Regions from separate parts of the Homo sapiens genome. Here regions 1 and 2 are each linked to region 3. The links come from fine-mapping of genetic effects on gene expression. A gene starts in region 3. Each other region holds a variant in brackets. All regions are shown on one strand. Distances are from middle to middle. Region 1 overlaps TRIOBP (TRIO and F-actin binding protein). Region 2 has its middle 5.4 kb from the start of LGALS2. Region 3 holds the start of GGA1 (golgi associated, gamma adaptin ear containing, ARF binding protein 1).

Region 1 (8,176 bases), 160 kb before region 3:
TCTCACGGTCAAGTCTGCTGCAGCCCTCATGCAGCACCAGGCTCTCACCTCGGGAGTGAGATGGATGAAAAGAAGCCCTACATAAACCTGAGCAGGCTGAACCACTCCACAAGGCACCTCATTAACCCCTCCCCAACCCCGAGGGCTAGGTGCTGCTGACTTGACCAAGGAGGAAACAAGTTCAGCCAGGACTGGGGAGGCTTAAAAGCTCAGACTGGAGCCAGACTGCCTGGTTCAAATCCCAGTCCAGCTATAAAAGCTTTGGTAAGGTACTTGACCTTCCTGTGCCTCAGTTTCCTCATCTGTAAATGGGGACAGTCATAGTAGCTAATGTATGGAGCTGTCAGGAAGATTAGATGAGTTAACAGACAAAAAGGGCTTCCAGAATTTCTAGGTACAGAGTGAGCCTCACCTAAGTGTTTGTTGAAGAAATAAAATATTGGGGCCAGGAGCGGTGGCTCACGCCTGTAATCCCAGCACTTTGGGAGGCAGAGGCGGGCGGATCACGAGGTCAGGAGATTGGGACCATCCCGGCTAACATGGTGAAACCCCGTCTCTACTAAAAATACAAAAAATTAGCCAGGTGTGGTGGCGGGTGCCTGTAGTCCCAGCTACTCGGGAGGCTGAGGCAGGAGAATGGCATGAACCCGAGAGGCGGAGCTTGCAGTGAGCCGAGATGGTGCCACTGCACTCCAGCCTGGGTGACAGAGTGACTCCGTCTCAAAAAAAAAAAGAGAAATAAAATATCGGCTGGGCACGGTGGCTCACGCCTGTAATCCCAACACTTTGAGAGGCCGAAGTGGGCGGATCACCTGAGGTTGGGAGTTCGAGAAGAGCCTGACCAACATGGAAAAACCCTGTCTCTACTAAAAATACAAAATTATCCAGGCGAGGTGGCACATGCCTGTAATCCTAGCTACTTGGGAGGCTGAGGCAGGATAATCGCTTTTTTTTTTTAATATTTTTTTTTTTTTTGAGACGGAGTCTCGCTCTGTCACCCAGGCTGGAGTGCAGTGGCACGATCTCGGCTCACTGCACGCTCCGCCTCCCAGGTTCATGCCATTCTCCTGCCTCAGCCTCCGGAGTGGCTGGGACTACAGGCACCCGCCACCGCGCCCGCCACCACGCCCGGGTAATTTTTTTGTATTTTTAGTAGAGACGGGGTTTCACTGTGTTAGCCAGGATGGTCTTGATCTCCTACCTCGTGATCTGCCCGCCTCGGCCTCCCAAAGTGCTGGGATTACAGGCGTGAGCCACCGCGCCCGGCCAGGAGAATCGTTTTAACCTGGGAGGCGGAGGTTGTGGTGAGCCGAGATCGCGCCACTGCACTGTAGCCTGGGCAACAACAGCAAAACTCTGTCTCAAAAAAAAAAAAAAAGTAAAGAAATAAATACTAAGGCCGGGTGTGGTGGCTCATGCTGTAATCCCAGCACTTTGTGAGGCCAAGGTAGGCAGATCACTTGAGGTCCGGAGTTCGAGACCAGCCTGGCCAACATAGTGAAACTTGTCTCTACCAAAAATATAAAAAATTAGCTGGGTGTGGTGGTGCAGGCCTGTAATCCTAGCTACTTGGGAGGCTGAGGCAGGAGAATCGCTTGAACCAGGGAGGCAGAGGTTGCAGTGAACTGAGATCGTGTCACTACACTCCAGCCTGGGTGACAGAGAGAGACTCTGTCTCAAAAAAAGAAAGAAAGAAAAAGAAAGAAAATACTACAGTGATACTGGCATCACACACATACACACATATTTTCTTACCCCAATATTTCCCAGTAAGGAAGGTGCTGGTGCCATTTTACAGATGAGCTACTGGGACTCAGAAAAGTGGAGTGATTTGCTATGGTACACGGCAGGTAGGTGACACAATGCAGGTGGGAGGGCAGAATGCTGGCTACTGGATGCACAGTAGGTGTTCTAGCCTAGTCAGGCTGGCCCAGCCACTGGGAGACTTGGCTTTCCTGCCACAGGTGATACCCAGCCTATGGCGGGGGTGCCCCATAGCCCCGGGCCCCGAGAACCACTGGGCTGCCTGGTGCTAGTGAGGACACTCACCTCTAGCTCGCAGGAACTCCGCTCGTTGCTGCGCCCGCAGCCATTGCCCATGCCCTGCGAGGCAATGAAGCCGCGCAGCTGGTCTATCTCCTCTGACAGGCGGCCATGCAGCTCCTGGGAGAGGCACGGTGGTCAGGGGAGGGGTGCCGGGACCCACCCGTGTCCCCCCAACCTGGGGCCAGGCCCACCTGGTTGTGGCGCAGCAGCTCCTGGCCCTCCTGCTGGCAGCGGCGCAGCGTGTGCTCGCGCTCCTCAGCCTGCCGCATGAGTGCCCCAATCTCCAGGCACTTCTGCGAGTACTGCTCCGATAGCACCTGCAGCTCTCGCTTCAGTGCCTCCACATCTGACCTGCCCCAGAGGAGGAGCAGAGGAGAGCATAGGTTGTCTTGCTCCTGCCAAGCCTGGAGTCCAGTCAGGTAGACTTAAAGCATCCCAGGACTCTGGGGTTCCCTCTCTAGGTTTGCCTTTAGCCTGCTGTGGGGCTGTGAACCAGTGACAGCTTCTCTGGGCTACAGGTGTTTACCCTAAGTGAGGGTGGCTTGGAGGAGCCCATCTTTTTTTTTTTTTTTAGATGGAGTCTTGCTCTCACTCTTGTTGCCCAGGCTGGAATACAATGGCACAATCTTGGCTCACTGCAACCTCTGCCTCCTGGGTTCAAGCGATTCTCCTGCCTCAGCCTCCCAAGTAGCTAGAATTGCAGGCTCCCGCCACCACATTCAGCTAGCTTGTATTTTTAGTAGAGATGGGGTTTCACCATGTTGGCCAGGCTAGTCTCGAACTCCTGATCCCAGCCTCCCAAAGTGCTGGGATTACAGGCATGAGCCAATGTGCCCGGCTGGAGGGGCCCATCTTTAAAGTTAAAGCCCCTGAAACCTCAACATTCCAAAACTGTGCTCTGGGGCAGGGAGAGGCCTAGTGGTCAACAGTGACACTGCAGCCCAGCTCCAGGGGAGACTAAAGGGGTGAAGAGGTGGGTGGAGGCTGGGACCAGCCAAGACAAGAAGCTGCCTGAAGGACTGTCTGTGAGGACTGGCATGGGGTCTGCCTGAGGACCTTCTGCTTCTGTTTCTTGCATCCATGAGACTGGAGCAGGAATCTCAGCTAGGGGCAAACTGATGTGTCCGCTGCCAAGGGGCCTCAGCAAAGTTCCTCAACCCATAACCATCAGGGTGGGCAGTTGGGCCCCGGCATCATCTTACTGGTGCTGCTTCCGGAGGCCATCCGGGCCCTGCTGGAGACTCCGTGTTTTGCTCAGCTCTCGGCTCAGCTCTTCCTGGTAGGCCTTCTTCATGGCTTCAATGGCTGGAAGCAGGGCAGAGAGGCACAAGAGAGACTGGAGGGGGGTCAGCAGCACCAAGTGCCACCAGCTCTGAGACGCCACATGTACTGGTGGAGTACTATGTGGACTCCACATAGTACTATGCAAGTACTATGGACTTGGACCAAGGAGTGCTATGCAAAGAGCACCGAACCAGGAGTCTAGAGTAGCCCAGGTTGTGTCATAAACTGAGTGGCTTGGGGTAAGCTCTCAACCTCTCTCAGCCCATCTATTAAGGGAAGATAATCCTGTTGGATGGACCCTACTGGGGAGACAGCTCAGGGTCTGACCATTGGTACCTCCTGTTCTAGTGATTTCCAGGTAGGACCCCACCTAGTACACCCCCCCTGCAGACTCTGAGGGCTCTCAAACAAGGCCTATCTGCTTTGACCAGCCTCGTGGTCAAGAGCTCAGGCTCCACAGTCAGCATAAACCGATGTGACTTTGCACAGGTGACTTAACCCCTTGTGCCTCAGATCCCTTATCTGGAAAACAGGGATCGATAACAACAGTACCTTTCCTCCATGGGGTTATTGGAAGGTGTGTGAAGAATTTAGAACAAAGCATGGCTCAGAGTAAATGCCCCAACATTAGCTCCTGCTGGCTTTATTCTCAGATTGTGAGCTCCTAAGGACTGAGACCGAGGCTTTTTTTTTCCCACTCAGGGCCACCCATGGTTTTACCCACAATTCTAAAATCCGAAACTTCTGAACATTGAAAGTTTCTCTCCTTTTTTTCTTTCTTTTTTTTTTTGAGACAGAGTCTCACTCTGTCACCCAGGAGACGGAGTCTCACTCTGTCACCCAGGAGACGGAGTCTCACTCTGTCACCCAGGCTGGAGTGCAGTGGCACAATCTTGGTTCACTACAACCTTTGCCGCCCACTTTCAAGCGATTCTCCTGCCTCAGCCTCCTGAGTAGCTGGGATTACACGCGCCTGCCACCGCGCATGGCTAATTTTTGTATTCATAGTAGAGACAGGGTTTCACCATCTTGGCCAGGCTGGTCTTGAACTCCTGACCTCGTGATGCACCTGCCTCGGCCTCCCAAAGTGCTGGGATTACAGGCATGAGCCACAGTGCCTGGCCTTTTTTTTTTTTGATGGAGTCTTACTCTGTCATCCAGGCTGGAGTGCAGTGGTGCAATCTCAGCTCACTGCAGCCTCTGTCTCCTGGGTTCAAGAGATTCTCCTGCCTTAGCCTCCTGAGTAGCTGGGATTGCAGCTGCCCACCATCACGCCCAGCTAATTTTTGTATTTTTAGTAGAGATGGGGTTTCACCATGTTGGCCAGGCTAGTCTCGAACTCCTGACCTCAGGTGATCTGCCCGCCTCAGCCTCCCAAAGTGCTGGGATTACAGGCATGAGCCACTGCACCGGGCCTCTGGTAAATCTTTTGGTGGCAATCCCCACCCTGAACGGACATGAGGCTATTTATGGTCTTTATTATTCCACTTAAGTGTGATTTTTATCCATTTCACAGCAGAAACCTTAGTGCCAGATTACAGGGCGAAGTCCAGACTCTGCTGAGGGGGAAGGGGTCTCTAACACACGCGGCTGCAAAGGCGATCTTCCT[G/A]AAATGCAGAGCACACTGGCCCCAAGGCTGGGTTCGAGTGCATGAGCACTTGGCACAGCACTGGCAGGTTGTGAGCTTCAGATCATGTGACATTGGCCAGCATTTCTATTGTTCTGCAAACCCCTAGTGATGCCTAGGAATGTGCCAGGCACACAGCAGGTGTGCGGTGGCAGGAGGGGAGGGAATTGTCCAGGATGAAGGGTGCTCCTGTGGGAAACATGTGGGGCCCAGTGCCTGGCACACAGCTGGCATGGACAATGCTCACACCTTCCCCTGCTCTCCCCAGGGTCTGGCCCATGTGCCCAGGGAGGAGGCACTCCTATGAGGACAGGGGATGCAGCTGATCAGCCTCTCCCCCACGCACGTGGGTAGCATGTGCCTTTAGGCAGACTCTATGGTGGCTGCAGGCCCCTGAGCAGGAAGAGTCACCACCTATGGTAGTGGTGGTGTTGGGGGTGGGGAGGGTATCTTTTACTGCCTCAGTTTCCCTTTTTAAGTAGGGCTACAGGCCAGTTCTTGGAGCTTCTAACACCTGCTGACCCTTTACCCCAAATGTGGCACTGAGACCCCTACATCTTATTTGATAAAATCCTCCCCAGTTTGGCTAGGAGGAACCTCAGCACAGAGGCTCAGAGCCCAGCCCACTGTGCCCCCCCCAGGGTCCATACCTGAGGCCGTGGCTGCCGTCTCCTCAGCCAGGAGCCACTCCTTCTCCTGCTGCAGGCGCTGCAGCTCCCGCTCGTGGTGCCGCTGCAGCTCCTCCATCACCTGCTGGTGCGAGGACTCCATCTCTGCCAGGCTGCGCTCACATGCCTCCTGTGGGCCGGACGCCAGGGTGTCACAGGCTGCCCCGTTCCTCTGGACAGCGGCCCTTCCCCAGCCTCCAGAGGAGAAGGCTCAGGGGCAGGTACACCACCTCCTCCTGGGTCCCAGCACCTCCAGTCTGCACCTGCTCCTGCTCCCACCCCCACCCCACGGCTCCTCATTCACAAACCTCACCTTGTCGCTCCTGCCTCAAGCCCTCCAGGGATTCCTCGTCCTACAGAGTCAAGTCCCCGTTCCCATGGCTGACCTTTACGTTCTCATCCCTGGCCTTTCTCTGCCAAGCAATCTCACAGTTACGGTTGCAGCACGTTCACACCTCTGAGCTTTAGCTATTCCCACTGCCTGGAATTTTGTGGTTTTTTTGTTTTTGTTTTTGTTTTTGAGACAGAGTTTTGTTCTGTCACCCAGGCTGGAGTGCAGTGGAGCAATCTCAGCTCACTGCAACCTCCACCTCTGGGTTCAAGTGATTCTTCTGCCTCAGCCTCGTGAGTAGCTGGGACTACAGGTGCCCACCACCACGCCCAGCTAATTTTTGTATTTTTAGTAGAGATGGGGTTTCACTGTGTTAGCCAGGATGGTCTTGAACTTCTGACCTTGTGATCTGCCGGCCTTGGCCTCCCAAAATGCTGGGATTACAGGCATGAGCCACTGTGCCCGGCCTGGAATGTTTTTTTGGCAACTTTACCTCCCTGGGTAATTTACTGACCTGCAGCCCAGTTTAAATGTCTCTCCTAGCTCTGTCTCTGGGCAGCCTCTCCCCTGCCTCAAAAGGTTCTACCTCTGCCAAACCATAAATTCCCTGAAGACTGAGAACATCTGACTGGCGCAGTCCCCAGGGTCTAGGCCAGGGCCTGACATGTGGCAGGTGCTCAGTAAATGAGCTGAAACTGATGATGTAATACAAAATAATGCTTAGTAGACAAGATGGGCAAGTATCTCAGACTAATAATACCCACTGCTGGGAGTGTCCGCCACAACGGTGTGTGTTGGGGGTGGTCCGGTGGCATCATCACATTTTGCGACCCCACTGGTTGACCTAGTAGGTTCACTCCCAGAAATGATCCCACAGAAAGTCGTATGTGTACAGAGACTTTTGGAACAAGGGTATTCCCTACAGCCAGGTTGGTAACAGATGAAAACTGGAAACAATCTAAATCCCTATCAGGGGAACTCTTGAATAAATGATGGGATCGAGCTTGACAATGGGACACAGGCAGCTGCTAGACAGAGTTTTTGTGTGGATGCTGTGGAAAAAGATCCCAAAATGAGGTGGTGAAAGTTGGCTTCTGACATACACGTGGTATGATCTCACTCACGGGAACAAACGTGCAGACCTGTCCGTCCCAGTGAATGGAAAACACAGAAAACACAGAAAAGGTAGGGAGGATATTGTAGGGGGCAGAATGATAGCCCCTCAAAGTTGTCCACATCTTACTCCCAGGATCTGTGACTACATCATGTTACATGGCAAAGAGGAATTCAGGCTGCAGAGGGAATCAAGGTTGCTAATCAGCTGACCTTAAAATCGGGAGATTATCCCAGATTATCCCTCAAGCCCAGTGTAATCACAAGGGTCCTTAAAAGTGGACGAAGGGGGCAGAAGCGAAGAGTTCAAGGGAGGTGTGACCAGGAAGGGATGGTCAGAGTGACGTGGCAGGAGAAGGACTCGACTTCCCCTCTGCAGGCTTTGAAGATGAAGGAAGGGGCCGAGAGCCAAGGGACGCGGACGGCCACCAGAAGCTGGAGCAGGCAAGGGATACAACGGGTGCCTGCAGAGGAACACAGTCCTGCCCACGCCTTGGCTGCAGCGCGGCAAGACTCGCGTTAGACTTCTCGCCTACAGAAGCGTGAGGTAATACATGTGCATTATTTAGGTAGCTGTGGTTACAGGTTACAGCTGCCACCAGAAACTGATAGGCAGGCGGCAGCAGCCACCGACAGGACCCTGGGGTGGCAGCTGGCAGCAGAAGGAGTGTGAGGGTGTTGATTTCCAGCCTTTCAATTTGTTTAAATTATTTTTGAAAATGTAAACATTTCTTTTATATAATTAAAAAAATGTTTAAGGTCATTAAAAAGGGAAGGGGAAGAAGAGCCAGGGAAGAAACTAAGGCACAGAGGACCAGATGAGGGACTGTCTCCCCCACGCAAAGGCCACCTCCCCGCCTCTCCAGCAGCCACACCTGGGGACGATTTGATGGAGGAGCGAGGGCCAAGAGCTTCATGTGGCGACAGGGGTGTCTGTCCCCTGGCTTCTGTTCCTGCCCTCTATGTGTCTCCTGGCTTAGGACAACAGAACATGACTTTGGACCTCAGAGGCGGTCTTCACCCTGGCTGCGCCTTGGAGTGAACCTGAACAAACCCCTCGCCCCCTCTGAGCTTCAGTCTTGGCATCCGTAAAGCAGGCCTCACAGG
Region 2 (8,176 bases), 24 kb after region 3:
CTGTATGCCAAGCCCATTACATACATTCTCTAGGAAGCTGAGGCTACCTGGCCTGCCCAAGGTCACACAGCCAGTAAGAGGCAGCGAGGACTTGAGGCCAATGCCATTCCATGAAGGTGCCGGAGCAGGCAGCAGCTCTGGACACCCAGCCACAGTCTCATCTGCTCTCCTGCAGCCCATGGTCTCCCCAGGGGCTCTGGGAATTAGGGGAGAATTCATGACCGCTCTGGTTGGTGGGTCTCGGGGGTTGTGAACTTGACCTGCAAGGGTATTACGGCACCTAGGTCCTGCTCCCATCCTAAAAATAAAGGGTCAGCTTCTGAAATGGACATTTCCCTGAAGGCCTGTACCTGTTGATTTTGGCCTTCAGGAAAATGTCCATTTAAACCAAGCTGCTTCTGGAATCCTTTGGATTCTGATTCTGGGAGATGAGGCCCTGGGGGCTCATAGGTGTTTCCCCTTGAGGAAGGAGGCTTGTATATGTACGGGGTGCTGCGGGGAGGCAGCCCAGATGGTCCTGAGACTGCAATCATCAGAAAAGCAGTGATGGCAGCAGAATCTGTGTGGCCCAGGGCAGAGCTGGGGCCAACTGTGAGAGGAAGGGGATTGCCCCCAGGGACAGACTTCAGTAAGAGTGGGGGTTTCCAGTGGCCATAGGTGCTCAGGGTGGATCAGAAGCCTTGGGAGTGGGTGTGCTCCTGCGACTAGGGCTGCACTTGGCGGGGGACCTCCTTTGGTTGTTTACCACATTAGAGATGGATAAATGCTCCTCTCCCTGCTTGGCAAACACAAAGATTGAGGCGGATATAGTCCTGTCCTTGGCAGATATAATCCTGCCAGAAGCTGGGGGTGGGGTGGGAATGCTGGGGTGAGCAGCGTTGCTTCATTGCTTCTGTTGTTTTAGCCTCTCCTCACCATCCCCAGGTACCCGCCCGCATGGACAGCTGTGACTGGGTGATTAAGATGCAGAAGGCTCAGGTCAGGCGCTGTGGCTCACGCCTGTAATCCCAGCACCTTGGGAAGCCAAGGCAGGCAGATCACCTGCGGTCAGGAGTTCAGGAAAAGCCTGGCCAACATGGTGAAACCTCGTCTCTACTACAAATACAAAAATTAGTCGGGCGTGATGGCGGGTGCCTATAATCCCAGCTACTTGGGAGGCTGAAGCAGGAGAATCACTTGAACCTGGAAGGTGGAGGTCACAGTGAGCCGAGATTGCACCACTGCAGTCCAGCCTGGGCAACAGAGCGAGACTCTGTCTCAAAAAAAAAAAAAGGCTCCACTATCCATGGAAAGACTGTGTGGCCTGGGCCAGGGAGAAGGAACTGCACTCAGGACTCAGGTCACCTGTCTCTGAGGAAGAGCACTCAAGGACCACCCAAGTCACAGAAGCAGCTTGGTTTATATCTTCAATTTCTAAAGACACAGAGATGGAAAATCTTCTTGCCACTTATAAGAAGGTGGACACAGAACCTGATGATCTTTTCTGTAAATCCACCCAGCACCACACGTGCATAAGTTGGCGTGGCCCTGAGACGGAGGCTTCCTGGTTCAAAAGGCTGGGATGATAAGCCAGGGAGGGGGCAGGAGGGATGGAGGGAGGGGCCGTGCTGCACCAGATTGGGGCCCTGAAGATACCCACCCTTTGGGGCTCTATGATGAGCAATTCCTCCTGCTGATCCACCATCCATGCACCCACCCCTCCCTCCACCTCCTCACCCATCCACCCACTTAACCATGCATCTTTTTTCTTTTTTCTTTTTCTTTTCTTTTTTTTGAGATGCAGTCTCACTCTATTGCCCAGGCTGGAGTGCAATGGCCCGATCTCGGCTCACTGCAGCCTCTGCCTCCCAGGTTCAAGTGATTCTCCTGCCTCAGCCTCCCGAGTAGCTGGGATTACAGGTGCGCACCACCACGCCCAGCTAATTTTTGTATTTTTAGTAGAGACGGGGTTTCTCTGTGTTGGCCAGGCTGGTCTCGAGCTCCTGACCTCAGGTAAGCCACCCACCTCAACCTCCCAAAGTGCTGGGATTACAGGTGTGGGCCACCACGCCAGGCCTCTTTTTTCTCCTTTTTTGAGGCAGAGTTTCACTCTGTCACCCAGGCTGGAGTACAGTGGCACAATCTCGGCTCACTGCAACCTCCTGGATTCAAGCAATTCTCCTTTCTCAGCTTCCAGAGTAGCTGGGCTTACAGGTGTGTGCCACCACGCTTGGCTAATTTTTGTATTTTTAGTAGAGACAGGATTTCACCATGTTGGCCAGGCTGGTCTCGAACTCCTGAGCTCCCTCTCCCTGACTCCCCTCTCCCTCCACACCAGTTGCAAGTCTGAGCCTCTGGACTTCAAGTTGGGGATCCCACGACCCCTCTTTGGGTTCAGTTAATTTGTTAGAGTGGCTCACAGAAGTCAGGGAAACATTTGTGTGTACTGGTCTATTATAAAGGATGTTATAAAACATACAGATGAAGAGATGTTTAGGGCGGGTTATGGGGAAGAGATGCAGAGCTTCCCCTCCCACCTGGGAGCACCATCCTTCAGGACAGCCATGTGTTCAGCTATCTCAGAAGCTGCCCAAACCCAATCCCCTGGGGCCTTTTATGGGGACTTTATTATGCCGGCATGATTGACCTCTGTGTAGAACTGTGAATGGGCAAAAAGGATCTGATCTAATATTACTAGACGAAGTGTGGAACCCCCGCAAGGCCCGTCTGTTCAGATTCTTCTTGGCCTCTCTGTGCAGCATTTCTTACTCCAAGGGATGGAGCAGGACCCCTTCTGAAATGAGGGTCTTATGACAAGGTAGGTCAGGGAATTTCTTTTTTTTTTTTTTTTTTTTTTTTGAGATGGAGTTTTGCTCTTGTTGCCCAGGCTGGAGTGCAATGGTGCGATCTCGGCTCACTGCAATCTCTGCCTCCTGGGTTCCAGAAATTCTCCTGCCTCAGCTTCCCGAGCAGCTGGGATTACAAGCATGCACCACTACGCCTGGCTAATTTTATATTTTTAGTAGAGATGGGGTTTCTCCTTGTTGGTCAGGCTGGTTTCGAACTCCCAACCTCAGGTGATCCGCCTGCCTCGGCCTCCCAAAGTGCTGGGATTACAGGCGTGAGCCAACGCGCCCTGCCAGGGAATTTCTTTACGGAAGAATTTCTGTGTTTTTTTTTTTTTTTTGAGATGGAGTCTCATTCTTGTCACCCAGGCTGGAGTGCAATGGCGTGATCTTGGCTCGCTGCAGCCTCCCAGGTTCAAGCGATTCTCCTGCCTCAGCCTCCTGAGTAGCTGGGATTACAGGTGCGCATCACCGCGCCCTGCTAATTATTTTGTATTTTTAGTAAAGACAGGGTTTCGCCATGTTGGCCAGGCTGGTCTCGAACTCCTGACCTCAAGTGATTCGCCCGCCTCAACCTCCCAAAGTGCTGGGACTACAGGTGTGAGCCACTGTGCCTGGCCAGAATTTCTGTTCTAAGAAAGAAAGGCAGGGGGAGATTCCTACCTTGAGGAGAGAAAGGAGCAGGTGAAGGAAGGACAGCCAAAGGTCAGAGATTGATTCTGTTTTCTGAGGCCTGTTCCTGAGGCCTAAAGCACCCCAACATTATAACAAAAGACTAACAAATGCTGTGAGAGTTATGAGTTAGAAACCATGGGCAAAACCTATTTTATGTAATAATAGTATCACAGCACCCATCCATCCATCCGATTGTCCATCCATCCCTCTTTTGAGTTAAAACTGACATGATAAGGAGCTCAATCCAGCCAAGAGCT[G/A]AGGAAGAATTCCAGGTGGAAGGAACAGCAAGGACATAAGGCATGAGACTAGAATGAGCCTGGTGAATTCAAGGGATAGAGATGTCAGTGTGGCCAGGGGGCAGGTGGCGTGAGACGGGGCTAAGAGGTGGACCAGACCCGATCGTGTGGGGCTGGTTAGCTGAGAGGGGAGTTTGGATTTCGCTGTAAGTGCAAGGAGAAACCTGGAGGGTTTAAAGCAGGAGAGTGGAATGTTGTCATTTACATCTTACAAAGAACCAGTGGTTGGTGGAAAGACTGTGGGGGCAGGAGTGGAGAAAGGGAGAAAGCTCGGTGGCTTTGGCCCACTCCCTGCTAAGTCTCCAAATTCCTTCCTCCTTCAAGGCCCCACCCTGATTTCAGGTGAGATGGGATGACCCCAGAGCTCCAGGGGACCTGGGTGGTCCTGGAGGGACACTAGCTGGGGATGGGTGGCCAGGCATGGCCAGTGGCTGCTGTGTAGAGAGGGGCCCCGGACCCGGCCATCAAGTTAAACAGGAAGATCCCTGGGCTGGATGAGGCGAGAGCTCTGTGGAAGTCCCCTGAAGGAGGGACGGTCAGCTCATCAGAGCTGCAGGAGCAGGGGACCCCCCCTCAGGCAGCCTAAACATCCTGGAGACCTGATGGTCATATATATAATTTATTTATTTATTTTGGGTCGGAGTCTTGCTCTGTCGCCCAGGCTGGAATGCAATGGCATCATCTCGGCTCACTGCAACCTCCGCCTCCCAGTTTCAAGCAATTCTCCTGCCTCAGCCTCCTGAGTAGCTGGGATTACAGGTGTCAGCCATCGCACCCAGCCCATAGGTTAACTTTTTAAATTAAAATTAAGGCTGGGCACAGTGGCTCACACCTGTAATCCCAGCCCTGTGGGAGGCCGAGGCGGGTAGATCACGAGGTCAGGAGATCGAGACCATCCTGGCTAACACGGTGAAACCCCGTCTCTACTAAAAATACAAAAAAATTAGTCGGGCATGGTGGCGGGCACCTGTAGTCCCAGCCACTTGGGAGGCTGAGGCAGGAGAATGGCGTGAACCCGGGAGGAGGAGCTTGCAGTGAGCCAAGATCGCGCCACTGCACTCCAGCCTGGGTGACAGAGCAAGACTCTGTCTCAAAAATAAAATAAAATAAAATAAAATAAAATAAAATAAAATAAAATTTAAAAAAATTCTCACAACCACCCTGGGACGAAGGTGCTGTTAGCTCCCTTTCACAGATGCAGAAACGAGGCTTGAAGCAACCTGTCATGGCCACTTAGCTTGTAGGTGACAGAGCCGGGACTGGACATTATCTATCTGTTGCTGAAACCTCTGTGTTTCCCACACCCCACCAGTAACTGAGGGTCTTCCCAGTCCCTCTGTGTGCTGCTGGGGAGGGCTCGGCAGAGAGGGAAGCAAGAGTTAAAATGGATATTGCCGGGGTGTTGATCTGTTTGTTCTTTGGGAGGAGGACAGCAGAGGACACAGTAGGGGTCTCAGGGATGTCAGGACCAAAGTCTCCCAATAGCAGGAGCCCCGTGGGAAGCTGTGTGCACCACCAGGCTCAGCAGGCATGATGCCTCAGGCCCATGACACCAAAATGTTTTAATTTCTTTTCTTTCTTTCTTTTTTTTTTGAGATGGACTCTTGCTCTGTTGCACAGGCTGGAGTGCAGTGGCACTATCTCAGCTCACTGCAACCTCCGTCTCCTGGGTTCAAGCGATTCTTCTGTCTTAGCCTCCCGTGTACCTTGGACTCCAGGCGCACGCCACCACACCAGGCTAATTTTTGTATTTTTAGTAGAGATGGGGTTTCACCATATTGGTTGGGCTGGTCTTGAACTCCTGACCTCAGGTGATCCACCTGCCTCGGCCTCCCAAAGTGCTAGGATTACAGGCGTGAGCCACTGCGCCCAGCCTAAAATGTTTTAATTTCTTATACAATCAGAAAAAAATAAACTTTTAGGTTGAAGAGAAAATATATACATATTTTTTGAGACCAAGGTCTTACTCTGTCACCCAGACTGTAGTGCAGTGGTGTGACCATGGCCGACTGCAGCCTTGACCTCCTGGGTTCAAGCGAACCTCCCACCTCAGCCTCTCCCGTAGCTGGGACTACATTTGTGCTCCACCGTGCCAAGCTAATTTAAAAATATCTTTTGTAGCCAGGCGTGGTGTCTCACACCCGTAATCCCAGCACTTTGGGAGGCTGAGGCAGGCGGATCACCTGAGGTCAGGAGTTTGAGACCAGCCTGGCCAACATGGTGAAATGCCGCCTCTACTAAAAATACAAAAATTAGCTGGGCATGGTCGTGGGCGCCTGTAATCCCAGGTACTTGGGAGGCTGAGGCAGGAGAATCACTTGAACCTAGGAGGTGGAGATTGCAGTGAACAGAGATTGTGCCATTACACTCCAGCCTGGGCGACAAGAGCAAGACTCCATCTCAAGAAAAAAAAAAATTCAGTATAGTATTATAGAATGTCTGTGGACATCTATGGACCAAAGATTCTTTAGCCAGGAGGGAGGCCTTCAGGAATATTATTCCGTCTACCAGCCTTCCAATAACAATTGCTTGGCAAGGTATATTAGTTATCTATCACTGCGTAATAAATTAACCCAAAATGTAGGGACTTAAAATAAGAAACACGTTTCTCATGGTTTCTTTGGGGCAGGAATCCAGGTGGGGTTTAGCTGAGAGCCTCTGGCTCCGGGTCTCACAAGGCTGCAGTCAGGGTGTCGGCTGCACAAGTTGTCTCCAGGCTGGCGTGGGGTAAGCTCCAATGTCAAGTTCACTCATGTAGCTGTTGGCAGGTCCTGGTCTTCATTGGTGGTTGGCTGGAGACGTCAGTTCCTTGGCACATGGGCCTCTCCATAGAGCTACTCGCAAGGTGGTTTCATTGCTTCTTCCCCAGGGCAAGAGCAGAGCAGAGGGCGAGAGAGACAGCAGGACAACAGTTTTTTTGTAACCTAACCTTGGAAGTGACATCCCATGACTTTTGCCATATTCTAGTATTCTTTTAGTTAGAAGCAAGTCCTGTGTCCAGTCATGCTCAAGGGAGCTGATTGGGCAAGTGTGTGATTACCAGGAGCTGGGGATCATTGGGGCCATCTCAGAGGCGGCCACCGCACAGAGGGCTCAAGGTCACACTGGAGGTCAAATGCTCTTTTTGCTAAGTGAGGGCAGTGCCACACACTTTGGCAGGCGCCTGAGCAAGGGATTGGTTGCTAGACAGCAAGCTCTGCTACTTTCTAGTTGCGTGAGTCCTGGGATCCCTAATTCCCCACCTGAAAAATGGGGTGAGAACAGAGGTTCCCTTGAGAATGTACTATGAGCTTATAACGATGAGGGCTGAAGAAAGTGGTTTGCAAAGTGCAGAATGCCCTTCAGAAGGTAGCCATTGTTAAGAGGACAAGGTTACAGATGTGAGTATTGGAATTTCTGTTCTTTTTCTTTTTCCTTTGAGACAGGGTCCGTCACTGTCACCCAGGCTGGAGTGCAGTGGCACAATCATGGCTCACTGCAGCCTGGATCTCCAGGGCTCAAGTGATTCTCTTACCTCAGACTCCTGAGTAGCTGGGACTACTGGCATGTGCCACCATGCCTGGCTAATTAAAAAAAATTTTTAGTAGAGATAGGGTCTCACTATGTGGCCCAGGCTGGTCTCGAACTCCTGGACTCAAGCGATCCACCCACCTCAGCTTCCCAAAGTGCTGGGATTACAGGGGTGAGCCACCATGCCCAGCCATTCTTTTTTCTTTTTTTAAATCTTTCATTGGTATAAAATATATACGCAGCAAAGTACGTAAATGATATGCATGGTCATTTTCCCCTGCTTTTGAACATTATTTTAAAACAAGTGAACTTTAAGTTCCTTTTACTGTGTGTACTTTCTGGAACCTCCTATAGTGAGATAATATTATTATTATAATCAGAAAAATGCCACCTTTAAAAGGTATAGTTTCTGTTGATTAGTTTCCAGGGAGAAAGCCTTTTAAAATTCCTTATCTCACTGGGGTTTTACCATGCCTTTGGGAGAAAGGCCGAGAGAGGATTAATTTCCTTGTGGGTGAAAGGAGGAAGTCACTCCTCACTCCGGGCTGGCAGGGGACTGAAGGTGGTGTCCTATGTGGGCACTGGGCAGTGAGCCACCTGCAGACTCCTGGCACCGAGGGCCCTCGGCAAGGCCAGTTCCCCACATCCTGCCCGGAGTGGCCACCGCCAACTCTGATGGAAAACGCTCTGGCTCGCCAAATCCTGAGCTCTAGAAAAGTTCTCCTTCTGGGAATCTGCCCTACATAAGTTGTCACGATGCAGCCAAAGTTTATGTCCAAATAGATTTAATGCAGCAGTATTTTTAATAGCAAAAATGTAGAATTAATGTGAGTGTTCAGCAGAAGGAAATTGGTTAAATAAATTCAGTCG
Region 3 (8,153 bases):
TGGTGGGTGCCTGTAGTCCCAGCTACTTGGGAGGCTGAGGCAGGAGAATGGCGTGAACCCGGGAGGCGGAGCTTGGAGTGAGCCGAGGTCTCGCCACTGCCCTCCAGCCTGGGTGACAGAGCTGGGACTCTGGGTGACTCCGTCTCAAACAAACAAAAAAGAAACACAGAGGAGGGGACTCAGTTCAGTTTGGGGCTGAGGAGGCTGCCTGGAAGAGGCAACACACAAGCAGGGACCAGGAGGAGTCACCCAGGCTGGAGCTGGTACACCTCTGACCCACGCATGGCTGTATGGGCAGGAAAGATGCGGGTAACCACACGAGGCAGAGAATGAGGGGCCTCAGTAAGGAGTGTGAGTCTTACCATCACACCAGGTTCAGAAAGCCTTCATTCCCTTGGGAGTGGCTCCGGTGTCCCCTTCTCTAATCCTCTACTCCTGCCCAGGGTAGCAGTGCTGGGTCAGTTCTCTTTTGTGTCCCCCAGCCTGCTACGGCACTGCATCCCAGCCACTCATGTCCACACCTGTCTCCCCTTGGCAAATGAATGAGCAGTCAGCTGAGGGCAGGCAAAGGGTGAGGTTCTGGGGAAGACTGAATCCAGAAATGGATAGTGGCAAGGAAAGAGGGCCAACAGGTCTACATGAAGTGGTGTAAACACGACCAGACAGCTACCCCTTTAACCCCCAATACTGGTTAAACAACAATCTAGCTTACATGCTTCCCTGAACCTCCATTTCCCCATCTTGTAAAGCTGGAATGAAATATGGATTTTTTTTTTTTTTTGAGACGAGTCTCACGCTGTTGCCCAGGCTGGAGTGCAGTGGCACGATCTCGGCTCACTGCAAGCTCCGCCTCCCAGGTTCATGCCATTCTCCTTCCTCAGCCTCCCGAGTAGCTGGGACTACAGGCACCCGCCACCACGCCCGGCTAATTTTTTTTTGTATTTTTAGTAGAGACAGGGTTTCACCATGTTAGCCAGGATGGTCTCAATCTCCTGACCTTGTGATCCGCCCACCTTGGCCTCCCAAAGTGCTGGGATTACAGGTGTGAGCCACCGTGCCCGGCTGTATTTTTTTTTTTTTTTGAGACGGAGTCTCGCTCTATCGCCCAGGCTGGAGTGCAGTGGTGTGATCTCGGCTGACTGCAAACTCTGCCTCCCAGGTTCACGCCATTCTCCTGCCTCAGCCTCCCGAGTAGCTGGGACTACAGGTGCCCGCCACCACGCCCGGCTAATTTTTTTTTTTTTTGTATTTTTAGTAGAGACGGGGTTTCACTGTGTTAGCCAGGATGGTCTTGATCTCCTAACCTCGTGATCCACCTGCCTCGGCCTCCCAAAGTACTGGAATTACAGGTGTGAGCCACTGCGTCCGGCCTGTATTTTTTTATTTTTATTTTTTTTTGAGAAAGAGTCTTGCTTTGTTGCCCAGGCTGGAGTGCAGTGGCGAGATCTCGGCTCACTGCAATCTCAGCTTCCTGGGTTCAAACGATTCTCCTGCTTCAGCCTCCTGAGAGTAGCTGGGATCACAGGCGTCCACCACCATGCCCAGCTAATTTTTTTGTATTTTTGGTAGAGATGGAATTTCACCATGTTGGTCAGGCTGGTCTCAAACTCCTGACCTCAAATGATCCACCCACCTCGGCCACCCAAAGTGCTGGGATTACAGGCATGAGCCACTGTGCCTGACCAAAATATTGATTTTGGATGACAAAATACTTTTTGCATGGGAAGGCCATGGCGGCAGCCAGAGCTCGATCTTCATTTCTCCACAGCCCACCTCTAAGGACCACCCCTTCCCAGCCAGTTCTGCCCACGCCTGAGCACCGAGCTGAGGGTGTGGAAGGACACAGCCCAGGAGGTAGAACAGAGAAGGATCTGTGGACAGGAGGCTGGGGACTGACCCAGCATGTGGCGCCTGCCCTGGGCCATATGTTATGGCAGGGGGCCCAAAGCCCTGGAATCCCAGTGGCTGGCCGCCATTCATCCAACTCAGATTTAAGTATTCTGGGTGCTGGGGCTCCAGCAGTGAACAGACAAAATCCCTGCCCTCCTCAAGTTCACTGCCCAGCAAGAGAAACAATGAATACTCAGATTAACAAACCCCGTGTACTGCAGACTGTTGCAAAATGTTACAGAGCAAAGCATAGCAAGGAGAAGTGCAGACAGCCTGGGAGGTGGGGGCTGCTCTCTGGGAGGGCTTTCGGAGGGCTCTGGAGCCCTCGGGAGCTGCTCTCTGGGAGGGCTCTCAGAGCTGAGCTGAGATCGGAAGGACGAATGTTCTCTCTGGATCTAGATCTCTGTCCCAGGAGCTCCACAAGACCCTCTAGTCCCTCAGAAAAATGAAGCCCCTGTTGACCTCCTGGGGATACCAGGAATATGACCCTCCCCAACCCAGGGGTAAGGGTAACTGTCTACTCTGCCTCCGAGTCCCCAAACAAAGGCTGGGGAACATCAGTCTAAAGTTAGAGAATCACTGCCCATTCAATGACACCCAGCCAGAAGACCCTAAAACAGGAAGTCCCTTAAAGTGTCAAAGACACGTGAGTTGGAGTGAGGTCAGAGAAGCTGATTCTGGACTGCTCCTGGGTCAGACGCCAGTGAAGAGGAAGCGCTGGCATCATGAGACATCATCTTTCTCCCCCTGCCTCTGGCTGAAAGCCAGGGCCTCCAGATCCAAGGAGATCTGACTGACCTCCTTGGCCCATGGCCCCTGACCCTCAGCCCTCTTAATTCTACCTGAGGGGAGTACCCTCCCTAGCAGGCAGTTGGGGAGAACACCTAGAGAGGGAGGGAGGTGTTTCACAACAGGGTAAGACTCCACCCTGCCACTCTATAGTGCTGACAATAACATCATTTACCTCACTAGGCCGGGCGCGGTGGCTCACGCCTGTAATCCCAACACTTTGAGAGGCCGACGTGGGCGGATGAGTGGCTAACGCCTGTAATCCCAACACTTTGAGAGGCCTATATAGGCGGATCACCTGAGGTCAGGAGTTCGAGATCAGCCTGGCCAACATGGTGAAAGCCCACCTGTACTAAAAATACAAAAATAGCTGGGCGTGGTGGCGCACCTGTAATTCCAGCTACTCGGGAGGCTGAGACAGGAGAATCACTTGAACCCGGGAGGTGGAGGTTGCAGAGAGCTGAGATTGTGCCACTGCACTCCAGCCTGGGTGACAAGAGTGAAAACCCGTCTCAAAAAAAAAAAGAAGAAGCTATCCTTTACCTCCAGCCTCCACAAGGGAAGAGGAAAGATCTTACAATTCTGCTAGGACACAAAGGGGGAAGGAAAGGAGAAAATCCCAGCCCCAGTGTGTCAGGGCCCAGCCAAACCCAGGTATCTCTAACTTCTGCCTGGTTTTAGACTCTCTGGACTCTCAGAAAACCCCCACTGTTTCTAAACCTGAGAATGTTTTGTATGACCCACAGCTCAAGACCTGTGTCTGAGATCAGTTAGCCAGGGGCCCACCCATCCCCCCAGCCCAGTTGCTGCTGAGACCCAGGCGGACACTTCCGGCGTTCACAACGGTCAAGGGCTGCTGAGTGCCCCTTTTCCACCCCCTGCCCCTCTGGTGGCTAGGATGACTCTGAAACATCCCTAGAGGTTTGGTTCTGGGGCCAACCTCATGGTTCAACTCTGCTCAAGCCTGGCTTAAAAGGGGCCGGCCATGACCCCAAACCACGCTAGACAGTTGCCGGTGTGCCCGGGTCCAAGAGGGTTCCCTGAGGCCCTGGCAACGACGGGGTCCCAACAGCAGTTAAAGCCTTGGGAGAGAACCCTCACTAGACCAGGGAGAAGCCAGCCACGGCTTTCAGAGGCAGAGTCCAGGAGCGGGGCTGTGAGAGCAGGGGATCATCAGGGCTGTGGGTTAAGGAGCTCAGGTGGAGGGTTTGCGGGCTAGGAAGCCTAAGCAATAGGAAGCTACGTCTGAGGAGAAACAAGAAAAAAAGGGGTGTAGAAGCCTTTGAAGGAAGTTCAGCAAGAGCTGGGAAAGGCATCTTGGAGACTGAGGGGTTAGGCTGAAGGGAGTGACAGGGAGCTTGGAATTATTAATACTTCTGGAGTCTAAGACTCTCCCAAGCCTGTAGGGTGCGGGGGTTTCTCACTATGTGGCTAGAGACTAGGAGCGGCGGGAGGAATCAAATGGGGCAGTGGGTCCTCCCTTCCAGGACGGGGTAATGAGCAAATGTGACTACTTGCGGGCTCCAGGAACGCCATGCAGGGCCAGAGAGTGGAGGATTCGGGGCCTGAAAATAGTAGGGTCCCTCCCTCCCGGGTGTGAGATGCAACCCCGGGGAACCGCTCGCGTGCTCCTTCCCCGGGCCGCTACTCCGTGAAGCAATGTGAGCCTTGGGGGTTGGAGGCTGCTCTCTCCGTCCCGGGGGTTCCCGGCGCAGCTCACTCGCCGTCCCAGGGGTCATGGCCCAGGGATCCGACAGGTGGGCGGCGCCCGCTCCCACCGCTGGACCGCGCCGGGGCCGGGGTCCTCCATCGCTCCAGGGTCTGAGGGGCCGACTGAGGACACCGCCCCTCCCGGGCCGGGGGCGGGGCGTGAGGAGGGGGCGACCCGTACCCCGCCCCCGCCGGGAAGGGGCCCGCCTCGTGCCCCCGGTTCCGGTTCCGGTCCGGCCCGCGCCCCTCCCGGACACTCACTGATTCGCGCCTCCAGAGTCTCCGGCTCCATCGCGGGCTCCATCCGCCACCGGCCCCCAGCCTCGGCACCGCCCCCCCGCCCCCCGCAGCTCTCGCGGGACCTCCTGGGCACCGCCCTCTGCCGATTAAAGGGGCAACGTCCGAACGGGCGCGCTCGGCACCATAGAGAGGCCAACGAGCTCGCCTAGAGCGTCACCTACTCGCCCAACCCCACCCCCACGCGGCGTCTACGTCGCAGCTGGGACCGGCCGCCTGCTTTTCCGTTCCCGGCGCTCAGGCGGGAGAGGAAGTGGAGATACTGCAGGCTAAGGGCAGCACCATGGAAACCCCAAGGGACGCTCTAACTCGTTCTGCGTCACGGAGATGTCTGTGACCGCCTCCGGAAGAATTCTCTGCGGGCATGTTGCTGAGGGGCTCTGAGGCCACTTCCGGAGCCCTGAGCGGGTACTTCCGCTTAGAGTCGAACGTGGGAGAGTCCCTTAAAAGGGCGATAAGCTACATCCTCATGTACCTTGGCCGCTGTGAAAATGACGAAAATAAATCAGTTTCTTGAGTGCTTACAGTATTCTGGGCATTGTCCTAAGCACTATTTGTAATTAATCCATTTAGTTCTGACTCCTTACAACAAACCCACCAGATAATTAGTCGGCCTGAGGCCGCACAAGTAGCAGAGCTTGAACCCTGTGCCGTCTCCTCCATTCATCCAGCCAACGTTTAATGAACTCTTTGTATTTGCTTTGCTCTGTGATGGGCACAGAAGGAGATAGACAAGGCCAGATATTTATTACAGTGTGATAGGGGAAGCCCACGGGGTAGTGGGAACAAAGGAGGGGGCTCCTCCCCCAAACTGGGGTGGGGTGGGTGGGGGTGTTGTCAGGGGAGGGGTCGTGTCAGGGGAGGGGTCGTGTCAGGGGAGGTTTCAAGAGAAAGTGATACTGTACTTCGCTCAAAGACAGTCGGATTTCTCCACGTAGAGCTGGTGCGAAAAGATATTCAGGGAGAAAAAGTAGGATGAAGGCCGAGGAGGGCGGATCACGAGGTCAGGAGATCGAAACCATCCTAACACGGTGAAACCCCGTCTCTACTAAAAAAAAAAAAAAAAAAAAATTATCTGGGCGCGCCTTTAGTGCCAGCTACTTAGAAGGCTGAGGCAGAAGAATCGCTTGAACCCGGGAGGTGAAGGTTGCAGTGAGCCGAGATTGCGTCACTGCACTCCAGCCTGGGCGGCATAGCGAGACTCAGTCTCAAAAAAAAAAAAAAAAAAAAAAGTAGGATGAGTCCAGGGAGTTGGAAGTATTTCAATACGGCTCCCAGATATCTGCAAATAGATATCTATTTGCAGGAGATATCTTGGAATTAGGCTGGGGCAAGATCACCCAGGTCCCATGTTTTGCTGCCCTTTTTTTTTTTTTTCCCTGTAAGCAACGTTGGAGGTGTCGTTACAGTTTTACGGATGGTAGCAAAGTCAGGCTTTTGTTTTAGAAGGGTCCAGCAGTGGGAGGAAGATAGCAGTGGGAGCCAGACTGGAATCGGGGAGGACAGTACGAACAGACTTCCTAAGCTCGGCGCCTTTTCTCCTGTATCTCCCTCCATCAAAGACCTCCCTCACCTTGTGGCGTCACGACCTGGCGGCGCCTGGTCCCCGACTCACCTGGGTCCATTGCACTCTGTCGCCCCCTCGCGGCCGGCTGGGAAACCGGCCCGTGGCGACCTCTCCAGCGGTCCTGTGCCTGGGAGGGTTAAAGCTCCACTGAGACTAGGGAATCTGGCGAATCCGGTTCTGCCTTGGCGACTGACCTCGATTCACCTTGCGGAACCGCAGTAACCTCATCCAGGAGATGAGGGGGCTGTGCTGGGTCAGTTTTTCCCCTAAACTCAACCATTCAGCGACTGGGATGCTTTTCTAAATTCTCTCCCAAAGGCCATTGAGATTATACAGGGAAGTGATATGTATGTTTATTGCATTCCTCAACAAAAGCTGTAACGTAGTGTATACTTATAGCTTTTTGTTTATGTCTTTTACTACTGAAATGAATTATATATATTTTTTTATTTTATTTTATTTTTGAGACGGAGTCTCTCTCTGTCGCCCAGGCCGGAGTGCAGTGACGCGATCTCAGCTCACCACAACCTCTGCCTCCCGGGTTCAAGTGATTTTCCTCCCTCACCCTCCCGAGTAGCTGGGATTACCGGCGCCTGCCACCACGCCCGGCTAATTTTTTCATATTTTTAGTAGAGACGGGGTTTCACCATGTTGGCCAGGCTGGTCTCGAACTCTGGACCTCAAGTAATCCACCCGCCTGAGCCTCCCAAAGTGCTGGGATTACAGGTATGAACCACTGCGCCCAGCCTATTATATTTATTTTTGAGACAGAGTTTTACTCTGTCGCCCAGGCTAGAGTGCAGTGGCACGATCTCAGCTCACTGCAACCTCTGCTTCCTGGGTTCAAGCGATTCCCCTGCCTCAGCCTCCTGAGTTGCTGGGATTACAGGCATGCGCCATCATGCCTGGCTAATTTTTGTATTTTTAGTAGAGACAGGGTTTCGCCATGTTGGCCAGGCGGGTCTCGAACCCCTGACCTCAGGTGATCCACCTGCCTTGACCACCCAAAGTGTTTGGATTACAGGCGTGAGCCACCACGCCCAGCCTGAGATGAATTATTACTGAAATAAAACTCACATCGCATTTACTGCATTCATTTAGGGACATGTCTGTGCTGTCAGGAGTCACTTTTAAAGACAAAATAGATTTGATTTAGGTGCAAATTCTGACTTCACTGCTTTCTGGATGATCTTGAACAAGTGTGTCTGCAAAATTAATCCCCTACCACATGTTCCCTACCACCTTTTCTGCTGAACTTTTCTCCTTAGCACTTATCTCCACTACATATTTCATTTCTTTGTTGTGTTTTGTGTCTCTCTCCCCCACCAGAATGTAAGCTCCACCACGGCAATGGATTTTATTTAGTTACTTCACTAATAATATATCCCCAAGCCCTAAAACAGTAACTGTTACACAATAAGTATTCAATAAATATGCATCAAATAAATGAATGAATATGCCCAACATTGCACAGTGAGTATGGGGGTTTGGAGAGGCGAGCCAGGCTGTGCTTGTAACAAAGGCTCTAGGCTGTCCCTCTGAGTTCTGGGGAGCAGGGCGTGATAAGGTAGACTCAGGAGCTGTGTCTATGCGTGAAGGGCCTGGCCCAAACTGGGGATCAGGGTAGGAGGTACGGTAGGAGGAACCTAAAGATGGTGAAAGGAAGGAGGACCAACACGGGAAACTTGGAGGAAATGCCTGTGGCAGCCGTTCCCACCCATTCCCCACCATGAGCAAATGTGTTGCTTTGAGAGACTTGAGGAACCCCTGAGAAGGGCAGGTAAAGCTCAGCTATAATCACCTAAGCCATGCCGACCTCTAAGGATTTAACACCTCAGCTCCTTCCTAAGAAAACCCCTGGAACACTGGAAACGTTGGTGAGGGAGGGCTGGGGCGAGGG

What was found. PIP is the estimated chance that this variant, and not a neighbour inherited with it, causes the effect.
Region 1: its variant is the best candidate, but not a certain one, in a credible set for the expression of GGA1 in whole blood (TOPMed, PIP 0.77).
Region 2: its variant is the best candidate, but not a certain one, in a credible set for the expression of GGA1 in whole blood (INTERVAL, PIP 0.57).

Annotation. Positions count from the first base shown.
Region 1 is chr22:37,763,249-37,771,424 of GRCh38, reverse strand. TRIOBP (TRIO and F-actin binding protein) reads right to left here. Exons shown (of 24, transcript NM_001039141.3): 18 at 5,608-5,755; 19 at 3,249-3,351; 20 at 2,238-2,397; 21 at 2,050-2,163. Among named protein-coding and RNA genes, the nearest start is that of H1-0, 38 kb to the left of the region's middle. The variant G/A (reference allele first, on the strand shown) is at 4,940.
Region 2 is chr22:37,581,438-37,589,613 of GRCh38, reverse strand. No RefSeq gene overlaps it. Among named protein-coding and RNA genes, the nearest start is that of LGALS2, 5.4 kb to the right of the region's middle. The variant G/A (reference allele first, on the strand shown) is at 3,758.
Region 3 is chr22:37,605,401-37,613,553 of GRCh38, reverse strand. It overlaps GGA1 (golgi associated, gamma adaptin ear containing, ARF binding protein 1), which reads right to left and starts at 4,720. Exons shown (of 17, transcript NM_013365.5): 1 at 4,651-4,720. The coding sequence starts at 4,693. RefSeq lists enhancers at 3,891-4,000, 3,715-4,336, 4,941-5,110, 5,261-5,340, a silencer at 4,331-4,780 and a cis regulatory region at 6,085-6,544.